Linked DNA regions of Homo sapiens: regions 1, 2 and 3 are each linked to region 4. The links come from fine-mapping of genetic effects on gene expression. A gene starts in region 4. Each other region holds a variant in brackets. All regions are shown on one strand. Distances are from middle to middle. Region 1 has its middle 64 kb from the start of TMEM200A. Region 2 has its middle 220 kb from the start of SMLR1. Region 3 overlaps TMEM200A (transmembrane protein 200A). Region 4 holds the start of TMEM200A (transmembrane protein 200A).

What was found. PIP is the estimated chance that this variant, and not a neighbour inherited with it, causes the effect. A credible set is the group of variants that fine-mapping cannot tell apart.
Region 1: its variant is the best candidate, but not a certain one, in a credible set for the expression of TMEM200A in whole blood (INTERVAL, PIP 0.79).
Region 2: its variant is the best candidate, but not a certain one, in a credible set for the expression of TMEM200A in fibroblasts (GTEx, PIP 0.50).
Region 3: its variant is the best candidate, but not a certain one, in a credible set for the expression of TMEM200A in whole blood (TOPMed, PIP 0.75).

Annotation. Positions count from the first base shown.
Region 1 is chr6:130,297,785-130,305,622 of GRCh38, reverse strand. It overlaps a transcript of SAMD3 not described here. Among named protein-coding and RNA genes, the nearest start is that of TMEM200A, 64 kb to the left of the region's middle. The variant G/A (reference allele first, on the strand shown) is at 4,159.
Region 2 is chr6:130,598,823-130,606,660 of GRCh38, reverse strand. No RefSeq gene overlaps it. Among named protein-coding and RNA genes, the nearest start is that of SMLR1, 220 kb to the left of the region's middle. RefSeq lists an enhancer at 3,502-4,701. The variant G/A (reference allele first, on the strand shown) is at 4,086.
Region 3 is chr6:130,383,355-130,391,192 of GRCh38, reverse strand. It overlaps TMEM200A (transmembrane protein 200A), which reads right to left. Exons shown (of 3, transcript NM_001258277.2): 2 at 5,957-6,020. Among named protein-coding and RNA genes, the nearest start is that of TMEM200A, 21 kb to the right of the region's middle. The variant C/T (reference allele first, on the strand shown) is at 4,435.
Region 4 is chr6:130,362,008-130,369,845 of GRCh38, reverse strand. It overlaps TMEM200A (transmembrane protein 200A), which reads right to left and starts at 3,829. Exons shown (of 3, transcript NM_001258277.2): 1 at 3,322-3,829. It also overlaps a transcript of SAMD3 not described here. RefSeq lists silencers at 4,296-4,395, 7,355-7,555.

The DNA of each region.
Region 1 (7,838 bases), 64 kb after region 4:
TTTAATATCCATTCATGACTAAAATTCTTATCTAACTGGTAGAATTGAATGTTCATAACATGAAAAAGGGAATCTACAAAGGCCTTATTGCTATCATTTTTCTAAAAGAATATAAACATTCTCTTTAGAATCAGGAAAAATTATTATTCCTATCACAATTTCTGTTCAACATTGTTCTGGAGATTATAGACAGGGTAGTAAGATAAGGAAAAAATAAGTCAAAGAATTAAGTATTTAAAATTGAGAACAAATACTATAATTCTTTAGATGATACAGTTGAAAGTTTACACATAAAACCCACAGAATATATAGAAAAATATTAGGATATATAAGAGTTTAGCAGTGTTGCTAGAAATAAAACCAATGTAAATAAATCTACTTCATTTCTATATACCAGCAACAAATAGAAAATGTAATTTTACACTTTGGGAGGCTGAGGTGGGCGGATTGCCTGAGCTCAGGAGTTCAAGACCAGCCTGCGCAACATGGTGAAACCCCATCTCTACTAAAAATACAGAAAGTTAGCAGGGCATGCTGATGCACATGTGTGGTCCCAGCTACTTGAAAGGCTGAGGCATGACAATCACTTGAACACAGGAGACAGAGGCTACAGTGAGCCAAGATTGCACCACTGCACTCCAGCCTGGGCAGCAGAGTGAGACTCTGTCTCAAAAAAAAAAAAAAAAAAAAAAAAAAGGAAGAAAATGTAATTTTAGTGTTTATAGTAGCAACTAAGTAAAAACCATTAAAATATGTAAGCACTTTGTAGAAAAATTACAAAAGTTTATTGAAAGATATCTTAAAATACCTAAATAAGTAGAGTGATACGCCATCTTTTTAGAAAGACTCAATATAGTTTTTTAAATATCAATTATAATCTCGACTTAAAGTTTGGATAAAATTAAAATTTCGGCATAATTTTTTTTCATGGAACTTAGCAAGATGATTCTATGCACTGAATTCCAAGAGTCCGGAAAAGAGCCAAAACTCTCCTAAAGCAAAAGAGTAAGTGGAGAGATTTGTTTTAACTTCAGTAAAAAGTCATAAAGCTCTAGCAACTAAGATGAAAGTGTAATATTAGCATAGACATAGAGAATGTGTTCAGTGGAACTAAAGAGAGAAGCCCAACAACTAATCTATACATTTATGGAAACTTGATTTATGAACAAATTTGGCACTTCACCCAGCACTTTGGGAGGCCGAGGCGGGTGAATCACCTGATGTCAGGAGTTCGAGACCAGCCTGGCCAACATGGTGAAACCCTGTCTCTACTAAAAATACAAAAATTAGCTGGGTATGGTGGCATGTGTCTGTAGTCCCAGCTACTCAGGAGGCTGAGGCAGGAGAATCGCTTGAACCCAAGAGGCGGAGGTTGCAGTAAGCCGAGATCACATCACTGCACTTCAGCCTGGGTGGCACTTCAGATCAATGGGAAAATTAGGACTGTTCAACAATGTTGACAAAACCATTGTTTAACCGTGTAAGAAAAAAGCTGGATATGTACCTCATATAATACATAAAAATCAGTCCCAGGAAATTTAAAACTTACATTTGAAAGGGAAAACATTTAAACATATAGGAGAAAATGTAGATAAATGTTTATACACTCAAGTTAGAATTTATTAAAGAAAAAACAAAAATGACAAACTTAAAGGAAAATATTTATAAATTCGAAAACTTTAAAATTAAAACCTTATGTTAATCAAAACATAATAAAAACACGAAAAAAACTGGAAGATAGACTTGCAACACACATACAAAATAAAGAATTAAAATGTAGAATATATTCAGAATGGAGGTGACATTATTTTATATATTGTTTTAAAAGATTACCAGGCCAATAAAGTGCATATAGGTGCAATAGTGAAAACTGGGACAGGAGTTAAGAGGCAAGCTAGGTGAATGGTGATGGAATTTTGGACTGGGGTGGTAGAGCAGTGGAGAAAAAGGAAGCAGATGGATTCCAGATGTGTTTTTGCATGTGTGGCCAACATAACTCACTGATGAATGGTATGTGGATTTTAAAGAAAAGGAAAAAATTTGATTTTGACTCCAAACTTTTTGGCTTAATCAACTGGGTAAATGAGTTTCTATAAATAAATACATTTATTTCTATTCATGGAAAGGCCTGGGAGAGGAAAAGGTTCAGATTGAGGAGGAATATAGAGTTAACCTTTTGGCCATGTTAAGTTTAAGTTGCCTATTAAGTACCTAAATGGAGATATTGGCTCCATTACAATAGACACTAGCTGCTTTAGTTCAGACCTCAACAGAGAGATCAGACATAGAAGAATAATTTGGATGTCATTGGCCATATGTGGTGTGAGGGTATCTATTTTTTTCTCCTGTACTGTGATATGAAACAGAAAAGATTGTGATTTGTGATTCTGGAGATGAAAGACAAAGTGAAGAGGACCCCTACTTACAGGAGACATGCTGCCCCTGAACAATAGAGGCAGGAAAGGTACCGAAGAGAGCAATGTTCAGTAGAGTCCCCCAGGGCAGGCACACAGTCGATCACCTCTAGGAACAGTAATATGTGGTACTGAGTATTATTGTATTATAGATTCAGGGGATACATGTGCAGTTTGTTACATGGGTGTATTGCATAATGCTGAGGTTTGGGCTTGTAGTTAACTCGCCACCCAAACAGCGAACATAGTACCCAACAGGCAGTTTTTCAACCCTTGCCCCCTCAAATTTTAAAGCCTCTGGTATCTATTGTTTCCATCTTTATGTTCACATGTACCCATTGTTTAGCTCTTACTTATAAGTGGTAACTTGTGGTACTTGATTTTCTGTTTGTGCATTAGTTCACTTAGGCCTCTGGCTGCATCTATGTTACTGCAAAAAAATATTATTTCATTCTTTTTTATGGCTGCATAGTATTCCATGGTGCATATGTACCACATTTTCCTTGTCGAACCCACCACTGATGGTCACTTAGGTTGATTCCATGTCTTTGCAATTGTGAATACTGCTGAGATAAACATACAAGTGCAGGTGTCTTTTTGATAAAACAATTTATTTTCCTTTGGACAGATACTCAGCAGTGGGATTGCTGGGTCAAATGGTAGTTCTATTTTTAGTTCTTTGAGAAATCTCAATACTGTTTTCCATAAGGGTTGAACTACTTCACTTTCTCACCAACAGTGTGTAAGTGTTCTCTTTTCTTCATATCTTTGCCAATATCTGTTATTTTTGACTTTTTAATAATAGCTATTTTGACTGGTGTGAGATGGTATCTCATTATGGTTTTAATTTGCATTTCTCTGATGATTAGTGTTGATGAGCATTTTTTCCTATGTTTGTTGGCCTCTTGTATATCTTCTTTTCAGAAATCTTTGTTCATGTCCTTTGCCTGCTTTTTAATGGGCTATTTGTTTAAGTTCCATATAGATTCTGGATATTAGTCCTTTGTTGCATGCATACTTTTCTCATTCTGGAGGTTGTCTGTTTATTCTATTGATTGTTTCTGGTTTGTGTGTTTGTTTGTTTATTGTTTGCTGTGCAGAAGCTCTTCAGTTTAATTACATCTCATTTGTCTATTTTTGGTTTTGTTGCCTTTGCTATTCAGGTCTTAGTCATAAATTCTTTGTCTAGGCCAATGTCCACAAGAGTTTTTCCTGAATTTTCATATTTTGAGGTCATAAATTTAAGTATTTAATTCCTCTTGAGTTAATTTTTTATATGGTGAGAGGTGGGGGTCCAGTTTCATTCTTCTGTGTATGGATACTCAGTTTTCTCAGACCATTTATTGAATAAGATGTCCTTCCTCCATTGTTTATTTTTGTCAACTTTGTCAAAGACCAGTTGGTTGTAGGTGTGGCTTTATTTCTGGGTTTTCTATTCTGTTCCACTGATCTATGTGTCTGGTTTTTGTTTGTTTGTTTGTTTTTCACTATTACAATGCTGTTTTGGTTACCATAGCCATATGGTATAGTTTAAACTCAGGCAACGTGATGCCTCCAGATTTGTTCTTTTTGCTGAGGATTGCTTTGGCTATTTGGGCTCTTTGGGGGTTTCACATGAATTTTAGAATTGTTTTTTCTAATTCTGTGAAAAAATGGCATTGGTAATTTGATAGGAATAGCATTGAATTTATGGATTGCTTTGGGCAGTATGGTCATTTTAATGATATTGATTCTTCTTGTTCAT[G/A]GGGATGGGATACTTTTCCATTTGTTTGCGCCATCGGTGATCTCACTCATCAGTGTTATGCAGTTCTCCTTGTAAAGATCTTTCGCCTTCTTGGTTTAGTGTATTCCTAAGTATTTTCTTTTTTGTTTGGCTATTGTAAATGGGATTGAGTTCTCAATTTGGTTTTCAGCTTGAACATCCTGGATGTATAGAAATGCTACTGGTATTTAATAGCAAAGACTTAGAACCAACCCAAATATGCATTAATGATAGACTGGATTAAGAAAATGTGGCACATATACACCATGAAATACTACGCAGCCATAAAAAAGAATGAGTTTGTGTCCTTTGCAGGGACATGGATGAAGCTGGAAACCATCATTCTCAGCAAATTATCACAAGGACAGAAAACCAAACGCCGCATGTTCTCACTCATAGGTGGGAGTTGAACAGTGAGAACACGTGGACACAGGGCGGGGAACATCAGACACCGGGGCTGGTTGGAGGTGGGGGGCTGAGGGAGGGATAGCATTAGGTGAAATACCTAATGTAAATGACGAGTTGATGGGTGCAGCAAACCAACATGGGACATGTATACCTACGTAACAAACCTGCATGTTGTGCACAGGTACCCTAGAACTTAAAGTATAATAATAATAATAAAGAAATGCTACTGATATTTGTATGTTGATTTTGTATCCTGAAGTTTTGCTGAATTCATTTATCATGTCTAGGAGTCTTTCAGAGAAATCCTTAGGATTTTCTAGGTATAGAATCATGTCATCAGAGAACAGAGATAATTTGACTTTCTCTTTTCCTATGTGGATGCCTTTTATTTCTTTATTTTTTCTGAATTCTGTAGCTAGAACTTTCAGTACTATGTTGAATAGGAGTGGTACAAGTGGGCATCCATGTTTTGTGCCAGTTCTTAGGGGGAATGCTTGCTTCAAGCTTTTGCCCATTGAATATCATGTCAGCTGTGGGTTTGCAATAAATGGCTCTTATTATTTTGAGATATGTTCCTTCAGTGCCTAGTTTGTTAATGCCTAGTTTGTTGAGGGTTTTTATCATGAAGAGACATTGGATTTTTTTATCAAATGCTTTTTCTGTCTATTGAGATGATCATATAATTTTGGTTTTTAATTTTGTTTATGTGATGAATCACATTTATTGATTTGCATATGTTGAAACATCCTTGCATCCCAGGAATAAAACCCTCTTGATTGTGATAAATTATCTTTTTGATGCACTGCTGGATTTGGTTTGCTAGTAGTTTGCTGAGGATTTTTGTGTTTGTGTTTATCAAGGATATTGGCTTGTAGTTTCCTTTTTGTTTTGTCCTTGCCAGATTTTGGTATCAGGATGATACTGGCTTTACAGAATGAGTTAGAGAAGAATACGTCTGACTTGATTTTTTGCAATACTTTCAGTAAGATTAGTACCAGTTCTTCTTTGAACATCTGGTAGAATTTGGCTCTAAATGCATCTGGTCCAGGGCTTTTATTGTTTGGTAGATTTTTTATTACTGATTCAATTTCACAATTAATTATTGGTCTGTTCAGCATTTCAATTTCTTCCTGGTTCACTCTTGGGAGGTTTCATGTTTCCAGAAAATTATTCGTTTTCTATAGATATTCTAGTGTGTGCACAGAGATGTTCCTAGTAGTCTCTGAGGATCTTTTGTATTTTTGTGGTATCAGTTGTAATGCTAGTGCTACCTCTGTCACTTCTGAATGTGGTTATTTGCACAATCTTGTTTTCTTGGTTAATCTAGGACAATCTATCAATTTTGTTTATCCTTTCAAAAAACCAACTTCTTGTTTTGTTGATCCTTTGTCTGGTTTTTTGGCCTCAATTTCATCTAGTTTTGCTATAATCTTTGTTATTGCTTTTCTTCTGTTAGCTTTGTGTTTGCTTTGTTTTTGTTTATCTAGTTCCTTTAGGTGCAACATTAGGTTGTTAATTTGAGATCTCTTTGTGATGTCGGCATTTAGTGCTATAAACTTTTCTCTTAATACTGCTTTCATTATGTCCCAGAGATTTTGGTGTGTTGTGTCTCCATTCTCATTTGTTTCAAAATATTTTTATATTTCTGCGTTAATTTTGTTCTTTACCCAAAAGTCATTCAGAAGCAAATTGTTTAGTTTCCACGTACATCTGTTGTTTTGAGTGTTCTTCTTGGTATTGATTTATAATTTTACTTCACTGTGGTCTGAGAAGATGCTTGATATGATATGATTTCAGTTTTTAAAAATGTACTGAGATTCTCTGTAATACCAAGTGTATGGTCAATTTTAGAGAATTTTTCATAGCACAGATTAGAAAAATTATATTATGTGATTGTGGGGTGGAATATTCTGTAGATGTCTATTAGGTCCATTTGGTCAAGAGTCCAATTTAAGTCCAGAGTTTCTTTGTTAGTTTTCTGCCACAGTGATCTGTCTAGTGTTGTCAGTGGAGTGTTGAAGTCACCCACTGTTATTGGATCACTGTCTATCTTTCTCTTTAGGTCTAGTAGAATTTGTTTTATAAATGTGGGTACTCTGATGTTCAGTGCATACGCAGTGTTGAATTGAACCCTTTATCATTAAATAATGCCCTTCTGTCTCTTTTCTTACTGTTGTTGCTTTAAAGTCTGTTTTATCTGATATAAAAATAGTAACCTCTGCTGTTTTTTGTTTTCCATTTGTGTGATTGATCTTTCTCCATCCCTTTATTTTGAGCCTATGAATGTTTTTACACATAAGATAGGTCTCTTGAAGGCGGTGGAAGCTTGGGTCTTATTTCTGCCCAATGTGCCACTCTGTGTCTTTTAAGTGAAGCATTTAAGCTTTTTGTTTATCTAGTTCCTTTAGGTGCAATGTTAGGTTGTTAATTTGAGATCTCTCTTTGTGATGTCGGCATTTAGTGCTATAAACTTTTCTCTTAATACTGCTTTCGTTATGTCCCAGAGGTTAATATCGATATGTGAGGTTTGTTCCTGTCATACTGTTGCTAAGTGATAAATAGTGTAGTCTCAATTATATAATTGCCTTATATGATCTGTGTACTTATGTGTGCTTTTATGGTAGCAAGCGTCATTCTTTTGTTTCCATGTGCAGATCTCTTCTGAGTATTTTTTTAAGACTGATCTGGTAATGACAAATTCCCGTAGCATTTGCTTCTCTGGGAATGACTTTACTTCTCCTTCGTTTATGAAGCTTGTTTGGCAGGATATGAAATTCTTGGCAGCATTTTCTTTTCTTTAAGAAGGCTAAAACTAGGCCCCCAATCTCTTTTGGTTTGTAATGTTTCTGCTGAGAAGTCTACTGTTAGTCTGATGGGATTTCCTTTATAGGTAATTTTGACCCTTTTCTCTAGTTGCCTTTAAGATTTTTCCCCTTCACATTGACCTTGGATAGTCTGATGACTGTACCTCAGGAATGGTCATATGGTGAAGTGTCTTGCAGGTGTTCTCTGAATTTCTTATATCTGGATGTTGACTTCTCTAGCAAGATTAGGGAAATTTTCCTGAATTTTTTTCCTCAAGTATGTTTTCCAAGTTGCTTGCTTTTTCTTTTTTCTCAGGAATGCCAATGTCAGTAAATTTGGTCACTTTACATAATCCTATATTTCTCTAAGGCTTTGATCATTTTTTAAAATTCTGTTTTCTTGATTTTTGTCTGACTGGGTGAATTCAAAAGACCAGCGTTCAAGCTCTG
Region 2 (7,838 bases), 240 kb before region 4:
TAAAAAATCAAAATTAAAATAAACTTAAAAAACAAGAAGCTACTACTTGGAACTATCAGTTGGAGCAACACTATCCTCACTGTGCCTGTTTAGTTAGGGTTGGCACCTCTTAGACTGTGAGTTTCTCTGACTGTAGCATGGAATGTCTTTGTTATAATGCTCTGATGTTCTCAGATTAAGTATACCATTATAAAAAAGATACATAGACTTAGTATTATTCCTTTAATTATTGGATAAATCAGATTTCCCTCTGTCTGTTTGCTTAAAAATATATCACAGAGGAATACTTTCCTTAGATTATTCTAAACCTTTTTGGGTAAAACTTAAGACTTAAACCTGAGACTTGGATAACAGTGCCTTTATAGATATGTAAAGACCAAAAAAAAAGTCCGCATATACCATTGAACTAAATCAGATGAAATTTAAGTAAGTGAATAACATATTCTACAATAGAGAAGAAAACAGACTGTTTAGGTAAAGGCATATGCAGGAAAGCACGATGCCTGTGGCCTTGCAAAACCATATCGCCTGCATAGTTCTATGCCTGAGCTTTGGCCCTAATACTCAGGGCTCACCTTGTTCCTCGGAGGCCACTCTTCTCCTATTCCCCATGACAACTGTGCTTCACCAGGACTCGACTCTACTTAATGGTCTTGACAATTGCTACTTAAAAGGTTATAGTCCTTTTGTTTCCCTATTTATTATATTTCCTGACTTTCCATCATTTATCGTTTCCTATCTGAGATACAGGAAGGACTTGATTCATAATTTGTTTTGCCCCAAATGTTTACTACACTATGAAATTATTGGTTTGGCTTTAGAGTGAAGGTGTGGAAATAAGTGTGTATATTTCAAGTTTAAATATTTAATAAAGGCAATTTGACTGTAACCATATCTTCTCTAAATGTTACTTCTTTCTCTGTTGAGAGTTGTCTATGGCCCCCAATGAAAGACCACCTGCAGTACAACCATAGCTAAACCAAATGGAGTTTATTGACTTGTTCCAATGAGGAAGACCATATACCATGGAGAGCTGTGGGGTGACTCAATAAGAACGTGGTAGAAAGGACCCACATGATCTGGGCTTGTGTTAGACAATTTTTGAGAAGATTCAAGGAAGTAGGTTTTGCTCCAGATTGGATGCTGTTGGGAAGCAATTCTATGACTGGGTATCTTTTATAAATCTTATCTATATGGCAGGAGGAATGAAGTGAGGCTAAAGCTGTAATTGGTAAAGAAGCAGCTTTCATATCAGCTAGGGTAGGGGATGTTTAATATTTTGGGGGGTTTGGACAATGTTCTTGTTTTTGTACAAGTTCAGACATCTTTTGGAAGTGTCTTGATTTTGTCATGATCTATCAAAGTCATACAGGGGACTTGACTGATGTGGGTGTTCTGTGAAATTGTGTTCAGCAGGACAGCACCACAACCTAGCTCTGAGTGCCAGGACAGTACTGACAGCACCAGGCAAGCTCCGGCCTGTCAAGATCTGGCTTTTCTCTTCTCTTTTTCAGAGTCCTTAACAAGATTTTAGAATCATTCAGCAACCTCCGAGACTATATCTCTCCTGACACCAATGACCTTGGCTTTGAATTCCTTGCTCAGTGAATGTGCTTAGAAAATGCTGGTTGGAGAGTAATTTCTCCCTTTTCTCTGGCCAGCTTGACCTTTAGGGTGACATTTGGCTGGATAAACAAAAATATCTTAAAATAACATAAATCTAATTTTAAATCTGCTTGGGAAATCATAAACCATTAGTAAAATATGTTCTCTTGGTTCTAAATATACTTTTTTAGTTTAGTTGTCTTAATTAGCATAATTTACCGACACTAAAAATAATTTCTAGAACAAAAGTCTCTGAAAGTAGAAGTAAAAAGAGCTCTTTTCCTCTGCATTTTAGAGCTCAATCTCCCACAACTTTACTACAAACACTTTAAAAGACTTTGGTGAAGTAGTGATCCTGATTTTAATACTGAGCTATTTTATTGTTATTGTCCATTAGCTATTTGGAATTCCTACCATGAAAGTACAGTGCTGAGGATGCATACATTTCTCTTGTTTTCAGCCTCAACATTCTTAGATGATTAGCATTTGACAGATGAAACATACAATGCTTAAGATGATCTTGGTAAAGACAATAATTACAGCTTATCACATGGTTGCACTTTAAAAACCTCACAGTGAGGAATGGTCACCAGAAAATGGGGCTCCCTGTTATCAGGAAGATGAATCAGAAAAAGAAAGGACTTTGATGGCAGAGGCCATTCACTCCACCAATCAATCAATTAATCCACCAGACAATTTAATGTCTATTCGTTGAATTCCAAACTTGAGCCAGATTCATTGCTGTATGCTGGAACACCAATGTGAGAAGGAACAGAGCTCCTTCTCTCATGGAGTTTACTGGAGTAGGTAAGGCAGACATGCAAATTAATGTCTGCATAATTGCAAATGGAAGCCCTATAAAGAAAGGGAACTGGTTTCCACGAAAGCATAGAACAGTGGGACCTGAATTAGACTGGACTTTCAGGAAAGACATTCTTGGAAAAGTGACCCCAGAACTAAGAAAGAGGAGTAGGTGAGACACTTGGGGAAAGAGGGAAAGGAGGATGGCTGAAGAATGTTTCAGACAGAGGGAAGAACAGAAACAAAGGCTTTGGGGCAGGCATGAGGAGGGCTTGTGTCCTGGTGTGGGCTCCCTGGAAACAGACTCTGAAACAGAGATTTGTGGCCAGGTGTTTATCGGGTGTGCTTTCACGAATAACACCTGTAAGGAAAGGAGGAGGCTCTGGAGTTGGAGTGTCCTTTGGAGCTGCCTAAAATTCAGGCCTCTGAGGCTACTTATGGACCAATCTTCTGTCCCGAGGTGGGGGCATGACCTTAGGAGAACCAGGTGAGGGCAATTCCCAAAGTGGGACTCAGGTGTGAGCTAAGCAGCTTAAATTCCTAGCAGCTGGGGGAAATGAGTGCCTTGGGCTTGAAAGGGGAGCTGGGTGGGATGCCACACAGGGCTCTGCTGCGATGACCTGCGATGCTCTGTGGGGATGGAGGTCAGATTGCTGAAAGGTAAGTGAGTGATGGGACAAGAATCTGGAAGTGGGAGCAGGATCCACACACACAGGGCCTGGCCTCCTAAGACTTTTTAGGGATTGTACCTTAAGAGCTATTAAGGGGAATAATAAGGGTTAGGGCCAGCATGGCTTCAGAGGGATGATGCATATCCTGGGCAGGGAGATACTCTAAGCTGCAGGGCGACCCTCCTGTGTTTCTGTCTCCTTTCAAATTAGCTCAGTGACTTGTATTAATTGTTCTCAAGGATACCCATTTTAGCACTCTTTTTGCTTCTGTTTTTTGTTTTTGAGACGGAGTCTCGCTCTTTTCCCCCAGGCTGGAGTGCAATGGCGCAATCTCGTCTCACTGCAACCTCTGCCTCCCAGGTTCAAGCAATTCTCCTGCCTCAGCCTGCCGAGTAGCTGGGATTACAGGTGTGTGACACCATGCCTGGCTAATTTTTGTATTTTTAGTAGAGACAGGGTTTCACCATGTTGACCTCAGGTAATCTGCCTGGCTCGGCCTCCAAAGTGCTGGGATTATAGTCGTGAGCCACCGCGCCCTGCCCCATTTCAGCATTCTTGGTTGTTCTCCTTCAGATTTCCCAACTCAGAAGCCAGGCAATACTATCGGTGAGAGAATTAAGCATATCTGTGGCTGTGGGCTGAAAGATACTTGCTTCCTCTCAGGGTATCCAAATGCAAATGTTTAAAAAACTCCCTGGAAGATATGCTGTATTTTATTGGCCATTTCCCCACCAGTACTCAAATGTACCATGTAATATAAGAACCCTTAATCACGTGAAGCATGTTATATGTGAGACTGTCATAATTGGTGTCAACTATGTTTAGTTAGAAAGATTTTGTGTTATATGTGGCTATCTTCTGTATCTCTATCATCCCTACCCTCAGATGAAAGGGCGTTCATAATACTAACCAGAACAATCAAGTTGATTTAGTAAAACCTCATCACATGCCTGATAATCACATATCAAGCATGCACACTTTGTATTTAGATGTTTGATTTGATATTTG[G/A]TGCTATCATTATGAATCAGTCTTTCCGCTTTCATGCTGTAGCGTGTGATCTTTCAGGAACTCCTGAGAAGCCACGGAAATGATTCTTGCTCAGCTCCTTCCCCTGGAACGATGAATCATGGTAACTCATAAAAACCAGGGAGAGCTCTTGTCTGACAGTTTAATAGCTTTCCCTTTAGTCAGTCGGTGTAAGAATCTAATTTTGAGCCTATTCATTTGTGAAAAAAGGTCAGCGTAATTTCCTGATAGCTCCTGTGGCCTCTCTCCAGAATGGGCTGTCTTCCATACATGACAATGATGCTGGTACCATGTTGTGCAAAGTTCATGCTCTAAGGTGTTTTTCCCCACTGAGTCCTGATCCTAGGTCCAGATTCACAGGCACAAAACCCTCACCGGGGCATCATTCCAGACCTTCAGCTCTCTCCCTCACAATCAATCATCATGTCTGGCCAGTTCTACCCCCTGAGCAACTCTCTTCTTTCCATCTTTTCTGCCTTCACTGTAGACAAGCGTACCACCATCACCCGTTGGTTTGACTTCTGTCCCCGTCCAATTCAGACAGGTAGCCTGTAATTCCCTCAGAGGCAATTCCTCCAAATAAAAATCTGATCAGGTACTTCCCTTGTAAAAACCCTTTAGGGGCTCCCATCACCCTAGATTTTAACACGTTTATAAGCCACACTTACGAGCCTTCACCACTTCCATCTCCATGCACATTTCTAGGTTCCATTGTAAAAGGAGACTGTCCCATCTGTCTGTAGGAAAAGTCTTTCAAATGAAAATATAGCCTGGATATTGTAGGCTACTTTTCCAACTAGAAACTTTGTAGGAAGGGCTACTCTTTAGGGGAATAGTCATGATTATTTCAAACTTAAATACCTTTCCTTTGCATTGTTGAGAATAGTATGAATCATCTCTCACATGAAAGGGCCTATTGAAATTATATATTTTAATTCAACAAACCCTAATATTGTATTGATAATAAAGATAACTGAAAACCCCTAACCCTGGGGAGATTAAAATCTGTAGGTGAAATAGGGACTCTTAAACAACTAACTACAGCTGCAACTAATTCTGTATTGGAGGTATAACATGCCGTGGATGATAATAATTCATTCTGACTGGAATATCAGTAAAGACAGCATCTGATCTTGGCTTTGGAGTAGAAAGAGGTTGTTCTGGATAAATAGAATATCAAAAGAGCTTTGCTAGAAACAAAGAGTTGGGGAAGATATCCAATCATTGGCCTGGAGAGAGAAGAATGAAGAGTTATAGCAGGAAATGGTCCTGGGAAGACAGATTATACTTAGGTCAGAGGAAGCTGTAAATGCCATTCTAAGTAAGAATCACTTACTTGATAGGAAGCAAGAGAGGTTTTGAAGGTCTGTTGTGGCAAATCTGGCTTGTATTTTAGGAATGTTACCCAGCTGTGAGAAGGAATGTTGGAATAGTATAGAGATTGGAGGCAAGATAGTGAGATAGAAGAGTGAGTCAGGAAAAGTACTACAATGAAGGGGACAGGCATGGGAGATACTGAATAATTGATGAGTCTTGGCTATGGGTTGTATATAACAGTGAGAGTAAGAGAGTTGGAAATCTCCTGGTAATACTTGTCTGGGCACGGTTAACGCTTCCAAGATGACTCCCAATGATCCCCACCTCCTGGTAGTCTCATGCTCATGTCATCCCCTCCCACATTGTACCAGGATTGGCCTCATTGACCAATAATGGCAGAAGTGATGGTGTGTGGTTTTTGATATTAGGTTATAAAATCAGTGTGCCCTTTTTCCTTGGTTGCTTATTCTTGAATATTTGCTTGGGGGAAGTGGCTGCCTTCTAGTAATTAGCCCTATGGTAGGCACACGTGGTAAGGAACTGGGGCCTCTTGACAATACCCATGTGAGTGAGCTTGAAAGTCATTTCTCTAGCCCAAAGAAGTCTTTATATAACTATGGCCCCAGCTGACATCTTTTTTTCTTTTCTTTTCTCTCTTTTTTTTTTTTTTTTGAGACGGAGCCTCGCTCTGTCACCCAGGCTGGAGTGCAGTGGGGCGATCTCAGCTCACTGCAAGCTCCACCTCCCGGGTTCATGCCATTCTCCTGCCTCAGCCTCCCGAGTAGCTGGGACTACAGGTGCCCGCCACTGCACCGGGCTAATTTTTTTTTTTTTGTATTTTTAGTAGAGATGGGGTTTCACCGTGGTCTTGATCTCCTGACCTCGTGATCTGCCCACCTTGGCCTCCCAAAATGCTGGGATTACAGGTGTGAGCCACCGCACCCGGCCCCAGCTGACATCTTGACCACCACAACCTCACAGGAGATCCTGAGCCTGAACCACTCAGCTAAGCTGTTCGCAGAATTCCAACTCTCAGAAACTATGTGAGCTGAGTTTGGGGAATTTTTAATGCAACAATCAATAGAAAACTAACACACTTGGTAATTAGACAGCTCTGATTAGCTAAGGAGTACAGGTAGTATTAGGGAGTATTAGGGAGTACAGGGAAGGGAAACTGGTTTTATCAAGGAGATGACAAACTTGAATTTTGAGATATTTGGATTGTGCTATATCTCTAAGTCTGTGTTCATTAGGCATTTGGAAACAGATGTCGATTTGGAAGTCATCTGCAAGGTGTAGAATGGTGGCTCTTAAGCTGAAGCATTCATCAGAATCAGAATTTGTTGTTAAACAGAATGCTGGGCCCTACCCCCCGAGTTTCTGGTTCTGTAAGTTTGGGCCTGGGCCCACAATTTGTATTTCTAACAAAGTTGCTGGTGATACTATTTTGGGTTCAGGGACCACACTTTGATAACCACTGATGTTGAATCACTGAGAAGAAAACACAAAGTAATGACATTTATTATAACTAATAGTTCTCTTCTCTCTCTCAAGTATTATATATCTACATATACATTGTAGACCTGAAATATTTAGTAATTAAAGAACATGAAATAAATTTACATTATTGACCAAAATCAGGGGTTGGAGATTTTTGTAGACAACAATAAATTGAAACCATGTACAAGGTAAAAATTGAGTTTCCTTGTTTTATAAGGTATATATGTAATCAACACTTCTATGGATTCACAGTAGACACCTTTTCCTTACTCTCTCTGATTTTTGCTCTTAGTTTTGTATTTATGACCTGAAAATGGATTTCAGTTAATCAGCAAGCAAATATGAAAAGGAAATCCAAAAGGAACTTTAAAATATTCAATTATGTGCTACAAACAGGACTTTCATGTTTCTTCTTAGATTACTGGAATAAATCTCAAGAGATGATGCTTTGACAACCAGGAGGACTGATTACATAGATCCCACAGCAAAACTGTGGTATTGGGTGGTGCATCTCGGCAGATAGGACATAACAACCAACTAGATTAAAGGACATTTTCATAAGGAATAGCTGCTGCTCAATAATAAAGAGTTGTATTTCTTAACTCCTTTGAAAGTTCACATATACAGTATACCAATTAATTTTTGACTTACATAATTAGCTAAGTGGGGAAAGACAATGAATTGAGTTTTGTCTTCTCTCTCTCTCTCTTTCTCTCTCTCTCTCTCTCTCTACATATATATATATATTTTATATAGAGGCCCTTATGGGTTGACATTTTCTTTGCATATCCAGGATTTAGTTTAAATGTCTACTTCCTTAGCATAATGCATAAAAATGAGGACAGAGTATATAACCTCTGATGTTTCGGTAAAGAAAGCTGATCTCTCTCTAACTTGGGTACCCTGGTTTCCTAGTAA
Region 3 (7,838 bases), 21 kb before region 4:
CACTTCTATGGGTGTCCGAGCTGTGGCACCAGAGAAAGACATCACACTACCCTCTAGGGGCTGGCAGTCTGGTGAGAAGGGGCACAGGTAAACTGATATTTACATCACAAAGCAGTGACTGCTGTATGTATGCAGTGGTGCTCATTCCGAGGCATTTTTGTCCCGCAGAGGACACTAGGCAATGTCTGGAGACAATTTTTTGCTACAACTTGGGGTAGAGCACTACTAGCACACAGTAGGTAGAGGTTACAGATGGAGCTAAACACCCTACAATGCATAAAAGTTATTCAGTCCAAACTGTCAATAGTGTAGAGGTTGAGAAACCCTATTGTGATGAAGGTGAGCTGACAGAGAGCAGAGCAGTGAACAAAAACTCAAAGGTGCCTGGGAGATTCAAAGCAGCCTCACCAACATGGAAGCTGACTTTAGAAGGAGCAATTTGCCAAGCTAATATGTCAATATCTGATTCTAGCAGATATCTCCTCCTTGCTATGCAGTATTTGCTTTTCATAGTCTCACTCCATTATCAGTATTAAGTAAGAAATACTATTATATGCAACACATTCCCCTCTATGCTATGGAGGAGAAATAGTCATAAAAAAGACAGGATTTGTACCTTTAAGGGTATAAAGAATACTAAGGTTTGTCAAGCTTTTTAACATACTTTATCATTTAATCCTCAGCAGTCCTATCAAGTAGGCAGTACTAGTTTCACTCTGTAAAGTCAGAAAGAGCTCACTGAGATTAAATGACATACTGTAGCCCACATAGGGCTGCTCTGATACACAACGTGTGTTACATTCAGATGATATGGTAAAAAGCCATGGTCATTTCACCAAAACACAACACATTTGAATTTGCTCTACAGCTATGGTTTTACAACTTCGGAATGCTTCTAGGTTAAAACTATAATAGATGACACAGAGGTATAATGAGATCTTATTTCTCCAACATTCAAACCACAAAGATTAATTAAACAAAACTGTATGACTTATAATCATATCTATCAGATCCTGAGATTTAGTAAGTGAAAAAACAGTTAAATTATATTCAAAAATAATTTGGGGGTTGTTGGGCATTTCATTTTTTATACTTTTTTTGAAAACTGATAAGCATTTACAGCAATTCATGGTTAAACAGAACATCTAAGAAACCAAAACACGTTTCTGGCCATTCTCGACAAGTGCCTAATGAACCTGTAAGCAAAATAACTTTTATTAGTAACTCTTCGTTATCAGTATGAGCAATTTTTACCCGGCTAATTGTTCTCATAAAGTAAAATATATTAACAAAGAACTGGATGGGGATCCTAGAACTTTAACAATGGAAGCCCATGTAATAAAATGAAACCAGGGAATCTCAATCTGAGTCCCTTAGTTAGCACAACTGGGCTGGAAATTTTACTGAGTAGTTTTGAAATTTCTGAGAAAATCTGAAGTTCTGTGGATCTCTCTGAACCCACTGCTGGTGTTAAAATCTGGCCTGTGATATTATGTATCTAAAATTAATGATTTCTCAAAATTCTAACAAGCTATATTATTGTTATTATTGGTGTTAAAATCTGGCCTGTGATATTATGTATCTAAAATTAATGATTTCTCATTAATTCTAACAAGCTATATTATTGTTAGAATTTCTCAAAATTCTAACAAGCTATATTATTGCTTTCCTCCTATTCAAAATATTTTGGTAGAGGGTCCTAGAATACATATTAACTTTATCACTTTCAAGCTTATAACCTCTTCTTTCTCTCACATTGTTCTTTACGTAGGATATAGAGTTGTGAGTTGAGGGAAGACGTGACACAGTGTCAAGAGACTGCCCGTTTCAAAATCTACACTTGACCTTCTGTTCAGTGCACTACAGGAGGGAGTGCCCAGGGCTGGAAATCAGGAGAGCCCATAACTGCTTCTGCTTCCACTTATATCTTGTTGTGTGACTGGGTAAAAAGCTGTGGTCATTTCACCAAAAACATTTAGTATTTTTATCAATACTAAATCTTCATTTGCTCATCTGTAAAATCAGGGGACTACATTACAAGATCTTCTAGTCTATCCAAATCTAACAATCTATAGTTCGAATCTAAAACTGTATTTTACAGTTCTACTTTGTTGAGAGTCAAAGACAATATCTTTGACTTATCTAAAGATAATAGAGCTAGACCGTAGTGCTACTTTCATATTATATGTATTTTATATTTTCTATAAAATTTATTTTATCTCATATCTATTCAAGAAATCATTGTTCAAAACATGATTTAGGTTTTGTAAGTAATTTCTCTTAAATATACTAATTAGTGTTAAAATTATTGCTACTTGCTGATGTGCCAAATGTCATGAGTTAGGTGATTTTATAAACACACTTATCTGCAGTGGTTGATGCAATTCCCACAAACTGGGGCAATGATACTTTCTGTAAGGATATTCTAATGTTTTATTTTTTCATTCTTGCCAATTTTAGTATTTACAATTGAGTAATGAACTATTTAATGTAAACATCAACTATATATTTACAAATATAAAAACAAATAGCCATCATTTCTGATGACAAGATTGAGAAATATGAGTATCTACTTATGCCACTCAGCAAAAGAACCAATCATCTTATTAGAAATATAAAAAAATAAGGATATATGAATTTAGATTGTGAAATACTATGCATGAATGAAAACATGTACAAGCGAGAATCCACATTTAACATCTACAGAAACAGAACTTATCTAAGCAATGAATTGTCACACCCTGAGGCTATGCCTCATGTTCCTTATTGAGGGCAGATATAACTCCTGTCTTGATAATTCATTCCAGGGGGTTATCACTTTGGGAAACATCTACACAGCTAATATCCTAATGTTGTAGTTTATTTTCTTTTTAATTGGTTATTCACTAGGAAAGTAGATATCTGAGTCCTACAGCATCTGAAAGCCATTATTATAAGCCTTCCCTTCTCCAGAATAATCCTAGTTCCTTTCACATTTTCCAACTTCTTAATCAAGCCTTATTGCTTGCCTAGAACTTCAACTCCTTCACTTCCTTCTTTTTGGTTAATTTCTAAAACCGATGCAGGAATCTCCAAGGGATCTCCACTAGTACAGAGTATAATAAACTTACTAAGTTTTAAACTGTTATTCTCCCCTTTCCTGAGCGGCACTTGCTATGCTACCTTCAACTCCCATCATGAAAACTTCCACCTGTGAAAGGAAAATTATTTTGAGAATCAGAAACTAACCGCAAATCAATTCTCTAAGACTTAGGAATACCTACCCTTACACTTTTGTATTCTTTCCTACCTTGAAAAAGGCAAACAGGATTTTAAAAGCTTTTTAAGAGAAAAGACACCAGAAGTTGGATAGGGCTCTAAACCACTCAAGTAAGAAATTTTAAACCTAAATATTCTCAAGTCTAGTTGCCAAAGAGCCTCATGCATAACTGTTTTGGGGAAACATAATTAAGAGTGTGGAAACTAAGTCACAATTTCAATCTAGAATTCCCTTAACATATTTGAGTGCTGTTGGCTTAAGCAAATGCAAACAAGACTTAAGAAGCCATGTGGCCAAGTCCACATGATTGCATTCAAACAGAAAAGAAAAGAGTTGTTTACCCTTTTAAGAACTCTATCCAGACTGGGTGTGGTGACTCATGCCTGTAATCCCAGCACTTTGGGAGGCCGAGGCAGGCGGATCACCTAAGATCAGGAGTTCGAGACCAGCCTGGCCAACATGGTGAAACCCCATCTCAACTAAAAATTCAAAAATTAGCCGTGCATGATGGAGGGTGCCTGTAATCCCAGCTACTCAGGAGGCTGAGGTGGGAGAATCACTTGAATCTGGGAGGCAGATGTTGCAGTCAGCCGAGATCACGCCATTGCACTCCAGCCTGGGTGACAGAGCGAGAGTCCGTCAAAAAACAAACAAACAAACACAACTCTATCCAAATAAAAATATCCATTCTGCTACAAAGAAATTATAGGAGATTTTGCAATAGACTTTAATGCTGTTATATTATTTTTACTATAAACACAGGTAAAAAACATCCTTTCCTCTTAGGCATCTCAGTGTCTTGCACTACCACCTTCATATAAGAAACACATATTGTCACAAAATGGCACAATTAGAAAGAATCTTAAAGATCAAGTCCTCTTAGCATTGATAATTAAAGGCCCTCTTCTGCCCACTCACTTCAACAGCATTAAAGGATTACTGATGAATGAACTGTGTGACTGCCTCCACCATAACTGGACGGTTTCAGGTTTAGAAATAGGTTCTCCATGAAAGAGTGCCTGGGAGTAATGCAGGAGTGCCTTATAAAAAGATCTGGCTTCCAAATGATGCTGGCGAAGAAAAAGGAATATGCCTTTGAGCATAGTTTTAAAGTAACAGTAAGTTAATGCAAGGCAAATTTGTTTTATTTGAAAATGCTCCAAGCTCCTATCTGT[C/T]GAAACGACATTCTTACAATTTCTTGGGGGTTTTTTGGTTTGTTTGTCGGAATTTTTTGGTGAAAACAAAATCTTAATGCTAATCACCTAGAGTATCTTTTAAAGATCTATGGTTTCCTTTCTGCACTAGAAGTTGATGTTTGAAAAGGGTAAGGACTGGAACAATTTTGCATCCATGTGGAAGGAAAAACCAGACATCTAAGATGAAGAGGGTAAACTTTCCTAATCTCTTCCCTAGGTTCTCTCTAAAGGTCTAAAAAGATCATCAATTTCAATTCCCAGGTGCCAGTCTTTGGCTGACAATAACATAGTTTCCTTTAGTGACTCTAAGAGTAGCTTATAAAAGGTGCATCTTTAGAGCAATCACAGTTGGCTCTGACAAGCAGAATTTTGGTCCACAGCAGTTTTCAGCCCCGTTCTAAGCAAACTCAGTGGCTACCCCTTTTAGCAAAGAAGACTTTGAAACACTCAAGTGCTGCACACAGAAAACATTCCCACATACCCCGACCCTTCCTCTGAGCTTCAGTGAATGAGGTTGGTCCCTGTTCAAGCTCCTGGATTTACTGTATTGGAGATCATTTATCTTAGAGGTATCTTAGAGGGGCTGTGATTACTCAGAGAATGAAAGCCAAAAAGCTCTCTCAATACAATAGATTATTTTCTCCCAAAACTGAATGTTAGTTGTTTTATAAACCAAGTTACACACCTAGATACATACACACAAGTGAAATAAAGAATAGAGAAAAATTCTAGATAATTGAAGTTTAAGAGTCCCCTTACCAATATACAAAACAATTTTCTTCAGGATATCAACATTATTTCAGAAACATGGGATTTTCTTCTTCAACTTAAGGATCGTTTTCTCAACTGTTCATTTTGCATTTCAAGGCACCTTTTGCCAAAGGGCAAAAGGTGATCCCTAAAAATTCATCTGCAAATTATTTCTGTAGTTTATGTAAAATAATATGAGATTACATAGCATCATGAAATGGTTAATGCTCAGACTCTTAGAAGTTTTCAAAAACAAAAACAGCATGAAAGATTACAGGTTACAAGGTATAAACCTCCTTTTATTCCAAGCAGAACAAATGTAATTTTGAAATTACAGAAGAGCAAAGAAAATTATTTTTTTCTGTAGTCAATGAGCTTCTAATTAAGGGCCTTTTCTCTTGGGGATTTGAGTGGAGAGAAAAGAATGAGAGGAATGAGGAGCTGTCTTGCTAAAACAGCCTACTCTATAAAATGACCTATACAATTATTTTTACAGTGAGTGTTTCACCAGAGCAGAGACCTATCTCTATCTTAATTTAAAAATGCTTATTGCAAGGAACTTTGAAATGTCCAAATAAGACATCTGGTTTATTTAACCAAGCTAAGGAAATAATTGCCTGACAAAGTCCCACTAATAAACTCTGTTAGCTCACTGGAAGAATAAACTCATTACAAAAAAATCATCATAAAAAGTCACCATCCAGGTGATCAGTCTCCCAGGTCCCTGACGTCATTCCCTGCTGTCGCTCACCTCCAGAGCCAGATGTCCCAGGAAATCCCTTGCTCTCTTCAGTCGTTTTCAGCGGCTCTGTGTGCTAAGAAATTAAGAATTTTTATTATGTGAGCTCCATAACTGACAATGTCGCAAATTTACATGCATGAAGCATAATGTCAACAAATCAAATCCTCTTTCTACTTTTTTCTGTCTGACTACTTTCTTCCACATTTATATCCAAAAGAATATATTAGAAATGACTGAATGGTCATGTGTTTCTTTCTGCCACCAGATGAGATGCTATGATAGAGATAAATCCATTTGCAAAAAGATAATAAATGTACTCCAAATGTAAATTTTTGTGTATTAGAAGAAAAGCAAAAACAATCCCAAACTGTCTAACATCCTCAAACTTCTAAAGAAAATGAAAAGAAATTCTGTCAGAAAATTTTATAGGAGAGTTACCTACCCATTGACCAGTTCATTGTAATGTGATTTGATCATCACTTCAAAGGTTAAGCTTGATAGAAAATACAAAATATCTAATGATACATATCAGAAACATGCTATTCCTTTCTGAATCAAGGAAACTACAAAGGAAAGTTTGAAGTGTCACAAGAATTAACATTTCCTTTTTTATTAATTAAAACAATAATTTTCTGGCCAGGCAGGATGGATCACACCTATAATTGCAGCACTTTGGAAGGCCAAGGTAGGAGGATCCCTTGAGGTCAGGAGTTCAAGACCAGCCTTGGCAACATAGCAAGACCCCATCTCTACAAAACATTAAAAAATTCACTGGGTGTGATGGCATACACTTGCAGTCTCACCTACTCGGGAGGCTGAGACAGGAGGATTACTTGAGCACAAGTATTTGAGGGTACAGTGAGCTATGATCATGCTACCGCTTTCTGGCCTGGGCAAACCTTTAAATAAATAAATAAAACAAAAATAAAAACACAGGTAACAGAACATTATACAGCCTTTACAAAGGCATGCTTACAAAAATTTCAGTAACATGATAAATGCTTATAATAAACTACCAAAAAGCATTCACAAACGGTAAGCTTATTTCTTATAAAAGACTAACAACAACTGACAACGTTGAGAAAGTACTTAACAAGTGATTTCTTCTTTTCTCTCTTTTCTTTTTTAGACAGAGTCTCACTTTGTCACTCAGGCTGGAGTGCAGTGTTGGCATCTCAGCTTACTGCAACCTCCATTTCCTGGGTTCAGGCGATTCTCGTGCCTCAGCCACCCAAGTAGTTGGGACCACAGGTGTGCACCACCACACCTGGCTAATTTTTTGTATTTTTAGTAAAGATGGGGTTTCACCATGTTGGCCAGGCTGGTCTCAAACTTCTGACCTCAAGGGATCCCCCCCGTCTCAGCCTCCCAAAGTGCTGGGATTACAGGCATGAACCACCGCTCCCTGCCTCTTCTTTTCTCATATAATTTGAATAAATTATTCCTACGAGGTTCTATGGGTCCCATGGCCTCCAAAGTTTTAATACTTGTCAGAATTATTCAAAACATTTTAAAAAGGAAAAAATAATCTTTTATACTCATAATGAAGGCAGTATTCACCATGTCTTCATATTCATTTTTACCTTGATGCCAACCACCTGTGATTTGTTAAAACACTAAAAATTAAAAGGAAACTAAAAATACTTACTAGCGTTTTAAATCACAACAGCTCATAATTTATTGATCAGTATTTTCAGAGATCCAGAAAGCTATGTCTGGATACACAGCTGAGTGAAGATGGCTATGGGAACCAGATTATTTGCCATCGCCAGACATTCAAGTTTTCAAACTTCAACTTTATTAAGACGGCATCATGAACGTTTCAAAACATCAAAGTGAATAAGGCCAAGAATGGGAGCAGATTATCCCCTGTCATAAATACTTCCCATCT
Region 4 (7,838 bases):
TAGGGCTCTACAGGAAGGAATGTACAGACACTCATCTTACACCTTTCTAGATTTCTATGCCTTCTGTGGAATTTCACCTCTGGTGACAAAGTTTCCAAAGCACAACTTGCAGAACACATCCTATCAATTAATGATACAGTGGCCCCAGAATCCTCGCCTTTATATGAAATGCATGGATTTCCTTTTTCCAGCATCACTAAAAGCTCTTGGAAGAGTCATATCAATTACTCTGTGATAGTCAAAGCCCCAGAATTCCTGCTGGGGAAAGGGGGACCTTAGAGGAGGAGTGGGCACAGAACAGGAGCAGTAAGATTAAACATCAATAATCAGAATTCAAGGCATTTCAGGAAGTCTTGAGCTCGTAATTGGAGACTTCTGTGTTCCAGAATGTAACCTAAATTCTTACGCAGAAATTCAACCTCACCTAAAATCTGACCCTAACCTTATGTCTCTCTCCTGTTTACTCAGGGTTTCCAAAGTGAGCTTTAGCTTCTCCTATCTCTACAAATCCTGCAGAAAGGCAGTGGCGCATACTGGTGCAGATGTGCTTTGCAGTATTAGTCCCAGCTTCATCACCTTTCTGCTCTAATTACTTCCGAGGGTTGTTACAAAAATCTATTGCATCATTTGTGAAAATTCATGGAAAACCACCCAGTACTAAGTGAAAGCTGGTATTTTTATTATTTTATTATGTATTTTCAATTCACATAATCAATGTTAGGTCAGATGTCCCAGGCCAGACATCTTTTACTTCTCTTTGCCATTTCCCATTCAATACAACTAGCAAGACCCTCCAGCCTGGCTTCCTTCAACCAAAACCCTACAAACCACCCTCCTACACACACACACTGACTTCTGTCTCTCTTTAATTCTGCCAGAATTTGCCTTGCAGCATTTTAAAGAGAGACCATAAAGATCGTCAGTCCAAAGCCCTCATTCTGCAGATAAGGGCACCAAGGAGCAGAAAGGTGGAGGAACTTAGCCACTTACCCACAGCCACCTAATTAGTGACTCAGTCAAGATGACAACTCCCCATCCAGGTCCCTCTGCAACCCACTATGCTGCTTCCCAGTCTGCACTGGTCCCCTGCTGCTCTCAGACCACCTCAGCTGCCAGGTGATCTGTGGTACATTTATCAGTCCCCTCTCCATCAGCCTATAAGCCCATAGAAAAGGCCTGGAAGGGTAGCTAGCATGACACCACAATAAGCACTCACTGATGTTTTCTGAGTGTTTGAGCACATATCAGATCTCAGCAGACAAAACATAGCGTAAGTCCAGGAACAAGTGGATCTGCTTGATAAAACTGTAAATCAGATATACATTCCTTAATAAAATGAGGTCCATCTCATTGCAGGTTTGGATTTCTGTTGCTGCACAAGTTATTTTTCCTCTTTTAAATTCTACCCTCTATTTGATAAGTAACGTGTATGACTACAAGGGCTTATTTTTTATCCTCTACTAATTTTGCTTAAGAAATGTAAAAGTTGACATTTGCTTTTATCTTTGTTCTTATCTATCTTCCTAAGCTAAATATGAATTTCTTTCCTTTATGCTAAGAGTCATCATGAGAAGTACAGCATTTAACCAATCAGTTCAGATCCGTTCCCTCTATATGTCAGTAGTTATCCTTTTCTGGCCAATGAGCTATTGTCAAAATTCTGAAGCTACACAAGTCCAAATATAACAATCTAACTCCTGTAGTATTCAAAAGCTTCACTAAAAATTCCACTAAGTTAAAATAACAAGTACAGCCATCCCTCTTTACAATGATCTTTCCTGAAGAATCCCTTCTGATTACGGGTGTCTTCAGACACTACAGCATTTACCTAGACCTGCCTCAAAGGCAACAGGTGAAGCCTTTCTGTGCTAACTGCCTGGAATTTACCTACAGGGACTTTCCATACAACTCTAATGAAGGCTTTCCCAGCCCAGATACAAAGCTAATTATAACCAGGGTTACAAATTATAGTTACATTATCTCATAATTATGAGCTATCTAGTAGGACTTGGTTAAAAAATCATTCTAAACACCTCAGTGTGTGTTTTTTACAGTAAAAAAATCATACTGTTAAATTGTCAAAGCATTTAACTATAGTTTCCACTTAATGGAAGCATTATTTTCTGTTTAGAAGGACTTCTATTCTTCACTTGAGGTGTTTATAAAGAATGAAACTACAACTACATACTTCTGTGTAGGTAAACAGTGGGAAAATAAAGTAAGGTTTAAAAAGTTTCAAAATTTAGTCTACTTTTCACAAAATGATAATGCTTTCTAGTATCAGTAGCCAAATAACAAATTGAAGGTCTTTTTATAAGTGTTCCATAATTCAAGAAACGACAAAGTAAATAGCTTTCACAAGCTCTGGTAATATTTATGCATACAGCACTATAGAAAGTGTGCCTCAAACTTGGTTTGATTGCAAAACCGAGAGTTCAATATTCTTTCTTATAAACAAGAATAATCATCGATTCTTGAAATGTTTTCTATGCAGTTGTCCATAACTACTTCTGAAGGTATTCAGAAGAGACAAGGCAAGAGACACTTTAGTCCAACATATTTAGTTTTTAAATACACCAGACTAAGGTGGACCGGACTAAGGCTGATTCCAATTAGTCAATTACCTGTATGTGCTGCATCTGCCTTTCTCTCCGACATTACCAATGCCCGGTACTGAACAATGAATTGTTATTTAAAAAAAACACACAAACACACACACATTTTTCTAAATCAAACAGCGGTAAATACACACAGAGAGCTTGCGCCTACACAATGTGAAGTGTTGGCTGGAACAATTTATAGCAAAAGAATGATTAATGAAGCAAATCTTAGAAGCCCTCAGTCCTTTCTCTTACAGACAAGACTACAGGGAGAAGAGTAGTGCTGAATTTTGCAAATAATTGCTTTGCCTCTCCATTTTGCCTGTGTAGATTCTACCCCATCCAGATACTGCTTTACGAAACCCTGACCATACTTTGCTCAATCATGAATTAACGCTGTGGACATTACAGAGAATGCTGACTCTCAGGAACCGAGACAAAGGAGGGTGTTGCTTGGAGAAACCCAGCCAGGCGCTCCAGTACTCCGGGTTCTTGGAGGCTGCCCCGCACGGCTTCTCTCGCGCTCCCGGGACTGGGGAGTCTGGACCTGATGGCGGACTTGGTTTATTTCCCAAACTTTAGGAGAGACAGCGTTTACCTAACTCTGGAGGCTGTAGCGGAGGGGAGGGGAGGGCAGAGGGCTGAAGAAGTGCCCGGTTTCGGCTGCGGTGGCCGCCCACCCACCTCCCCACTCCCGTCAGCACCCTTTCCTTCCCCTCACCTGTCCTGAGCACCGGGCCCTGGGGGTCGGGTCGCCTCTCCCTGTTCTCAGTCCTGGTCTCACTCCAGGAGCTGTCGGGACGTCGGGCGCCTCTGGAGGCGGACGAAGAAGGCGGCAGGGTCGGGGGCGTCAGCGGGAATCTCGGCCGCCGCGGGCAGCCGCGGTCTCCCTCCCCATCCCAGGGCTCGGGCGGCCACCGCGGGCGGATGAGTCAGGCGAGGGGGCGGGTGGCAAGGGGTGCAAGCGGACGGAGGGTGGGGGCGCCCCTATGCCCGCGCCGGGGGGGCACCGGAGGCCTCGGGGCAGGGGATGCGCCGCTGCCGGTGCTCACAGAGGGCCGCCGCCATCCGGGCGCAGAGTCCAGGCGCGCCTGCCCTCGGAGGGCACCGGGCGCAGCAAGCCGGGCAGGGGAGAGGGAGTCGCCGCTCAGGCGGCGCCGCCACCGCGTCCAAGAAAGACAAAAGGGACCGGGAACGGGAGGGGAAAAGTTTTCTGCTCGGCTCCAGATGGATCCCAGCCCCAAACCTCACGCCATAAAGCCCCGAAGAGGCGGGTTGGGGGCGGGGGCCGGGGCGGACTTCCAGGGGCGTGGCTGCGCGCCTGCGACCCCGGACCGTGCCAATCTCGCCGCCGCCCCAAAACCTGTGGGAAACCCCAGTCCTGCCACCCACTCCTCCTGGAGGACGCAGACAGGATCTGCTCTGCAGGAGCCCAGGCCGGCCGATCCGCGTCCCGGCCACAAAGTTGCACTTCGAGAGCCCAAATCACCCGCAGACAAAACCCATCTTTGGGAACAAAGTACCCGCTTGCAGGCGCTCTTCCCGGGCTGGAAGGCTGGCGTGCGGAAACGGACACACCCACCCGTGGGGCCCGCCTCTAGCTACCGCGGGACCACCGGTTACCGAGCCAGGGACCCGGCTCCCCCAGTTCTCCGGAGCGGCTGGGGAGCTCCAGCCGACTCGCAGTATTCCCGGAGCAGGCACCGCAGGACCCTGGCTCCACGCCCCTCGGACGCTTTCTCCTCAGATGCCGCCCGGCGGGCCGGGGTCCCCCTGGCGGGCTGCGCGGGCGCTGCGCGAGCTAAACCAAACCTGGCCGGAAAAGACGCGGCCAAGGCCCGCTCCGTCCACGCTTCCCGCCGGCCCGGCAAGGGGTTCCGGAGAACGGCTTGGGGGGGCGAGAACCATGGGCGGGGGAAATGGAAGACAGAGGGAACTGAAGCACGGGGGTCTTCGATGAGCAGTGCGGATGTTCGACTCCAAACATCAAAGCCAACGAGAGGTTCAGGTTACTCCTCCTTGACCCCAAACATCCAGTGAGTGGAGACTGGCCTGTTCACAGAGTAAAATATGTCGTCTCTAATTCGGCAAAGACGGTGATGACTGTATATATGCAGGCCAATTCCGTAAGTAAAGTTTCATGTAAAACTAATTACCGGATATTCCAACCACCCCCTGTGCAGGCCAGCCGCATGCACAAGGTGTGTGCTATGCTTGTGTCCCCTGGATCTGTTTTAAGTGATAGAAGGCAAGTATGATATTCTGGTGCAGTGTATTTGTTTATTTCGGCGTGTGATCTGTTTATCTCGTTTTCAAGAAAAGTTTGCTTCTGGGGGGGTATAAAATCCGTGTTTGGGGGGTGGGGGAGAGCCATGCAAAAATTTCCACATTAGAAAAAAAAGTCTTTAAAATCAGATATGGCAATGAGAAGAGACTGTAGAAATGGATTTCCTGTGGTATAACCTTCTTGCCTTGACTAGAAGAATTTAGAGATTGGGCACTTTTAGTGGAGATGTCACAATCAAAATGTTTTATAAAAAGAAAGAAAAGAAAACTAAAGGAGTTACGGTGGGGGAAGGATGAGTCACCTTTATAAACCATCTGTGGTTTTATTTTTACCCCACCTGCATCTAGTATTCTAGCCCACAGCCACCTGCTCAATTCTCTTAGGTTTTCTTAAATGTGTTTGTCAAGCACCATATCAAAGGAGTGTGCTTCCATTGGGCCCTCTTCCTAGTTACCTCTACATTTTATAAAGAAACACCCTGAAGCCACATTGTCTGTAAAGCTCCTGAGAGGAAACACCTCCTGGTTCCCCTCACTATCTAAGGAGTGAGTAATAGGAATAGGCTCATAGTCCATAGATCATTTGAGGTGACATCCTCTCTAAGACCCATGGTAAAACGTTTAAAATGGTCATCTAGCCATTTTAAGCATTGAGTGACTGAGCCGTCCTCAAAAAGAGACTGATGAGAGCCATGAAAAAAGGAATAAGCACATTCTTAAGGCCACAGATATTGATGCTTCCTCATTTATGAACTATGAACTCAGATTTTAGTGATTTACCAAAAAAGAAGAAAGATAGACTAAGTAAAATCACCAAAAGGGAATTATTTAGATTTCTTTTTAAAATAATTACTATTAGTCTCAGAAGAGGCGGGTAAAATGGCCTGTAAATAGAGGATTATTTGCAATTCAGTAGTCCGAGCAACTCTCAACACATTAGTTATAAATTTTCCCTGACCTTGAGTGCTCAAGGGAATCTCAGGTAAATTATTTATCCTTACTAATGGCCAATATCTTCCCATCTGACAGTGAATATACCATGCCAGTAATGGATTTTGAATTCAGCTACACATCGGCTTTGGAAATAATGGATAGAAGTCAACTATTTTCTACTTCTCGCCATCAAGTAGCACTGCACTTCACACATAATATTTTTTGCTGTGTCTATATGAGATATGTAAATTTCCACTAGAACAAGCCCATCTTATAAGAGTGCATAGTAGAAAGAGAGTAATCCAAGTGTCCTGTAATCCAAGCTCCACCACCTACTAACAGAGGGACTTGGTACCTCATTTCTCCCATCCCTTAAGTAGGAACAAAGTATCTATTTCAAAGTGTTGTGAAAATTGAATGAAATGATGTGTATAATATTCTTCCTACAAGTCACAGATCCTCAATACATATGTGATTGAACATATATACACTCACATCAAACTTGTTTTAATGCAATTAACATCATCAAAAAAAGGCTCTTCCTCTGGAATCAAGAATTAACATGAAAAAAGGTCAAAATATGAAGATCAACATTTTCACTCTTGGTATAGTATTATAAAAGTCTGATGGATGGCAATTCATATTTAATGAATTAATTTTGGAAACATACGTTGAAATGAAAAAGAATGAGTATTCTTAAGAGGTCATGTAACAAGGCTAAGAGAAGGGCTATTAGAAAATTTGTGTGGGATTATATTCATTTCCTCTTGCCTTAAATGTAGCCCATAGCATTTTTAGGCCTGAGAAGGGATCCTTAAACAGAAAATAAAAATGTCTTCAATGGGAAAAAATAGAATTGTTTGCTAGATTTTTATCTGAATGGCTTTGTTCTTGATGTGAAATAGATTGATAGTCTTAAAACCCCTGTAGTATTTCTGCTAGCAGCCATGGGTGCTTTTTCAAAGTAGAGGGTAAAGTCAATAAAGAAAATGAACTTTCTGACTTTATTCTTGAAATAAGTAAATAGGGGGAGGAATATAGGATAAAGAAAAAGGTAGAGGAAATATATTTAAAAATAAAATTTTAAGGTCATTTTTATTTCACCGTGATTTTGAATAGCACTTTGTCATACTTTTCATGTTTTCTTTCTCATTATGTGCAATTGACTAATAGTTCAGTGGATTTCACAGCAGAAAGATGTTGCTAATTTCTTTTCTGTTCATTAAATGTGCAAGTAACAGTGCTAACCCCTCTCAGATTGATGTTTTATAATGTTGAGGCTGATACGACTACTTAAATATTTATAAATTCTGTATTAGATACAGAATCATCTATATTAGATAATCAGATACCTCCTTGTTAGATAATAAACCTGATTAGATTCTTTTTGCCTGAGGGGCACTGGCAGCGTACCATTTAGAAATGTGAAAGGAGCCATACTCTCTCCCTTCCAAAGCCCAGTTCTTTCCTCTGAACAGATTTGTGCCTGTTGAAGGATAATCACCAAGTAGCTTATAGAAATCCAAAAATTACTTTTTAAAGATTTTGACTGTTTTTGTTGCAAGAATCTACCTGTAGAAGATAATAGAGATTTGACTGAAATGAGAGAAGATGGTAGTGGTGGCCCACCTGTTCCACTGTCCATGGTACTGAACCAGTCATTCTTTCGTTAGTGCCTGACTACTCAAAAGCATAGTCCGAGACTCGGCAATATTTGCATCACGGGGGAACTGTTAGAATAGCAAGATCTCAGGCCCTTGCCCAAACCTATTAAATCATACTCTGCAACTCAGCAACATACTCAAGTGATCTGTCTGCATGTTAATATTTGAAAAGCACTGCACTAGGGCACTGTTCATATGTCCTCTGACTTCCCTGGTGCTCTGCTTATATCAGCCTTCACTTCAGTCCCTTCCAGAAGCACAGCCCAAATGCTGCCTTTTTAGCTACATTTCAGTTGGTGATGGTGGTGTGGTGTTACACAGAGAGCATAGCCTTTGACCCGAACAGCCGGGCTAA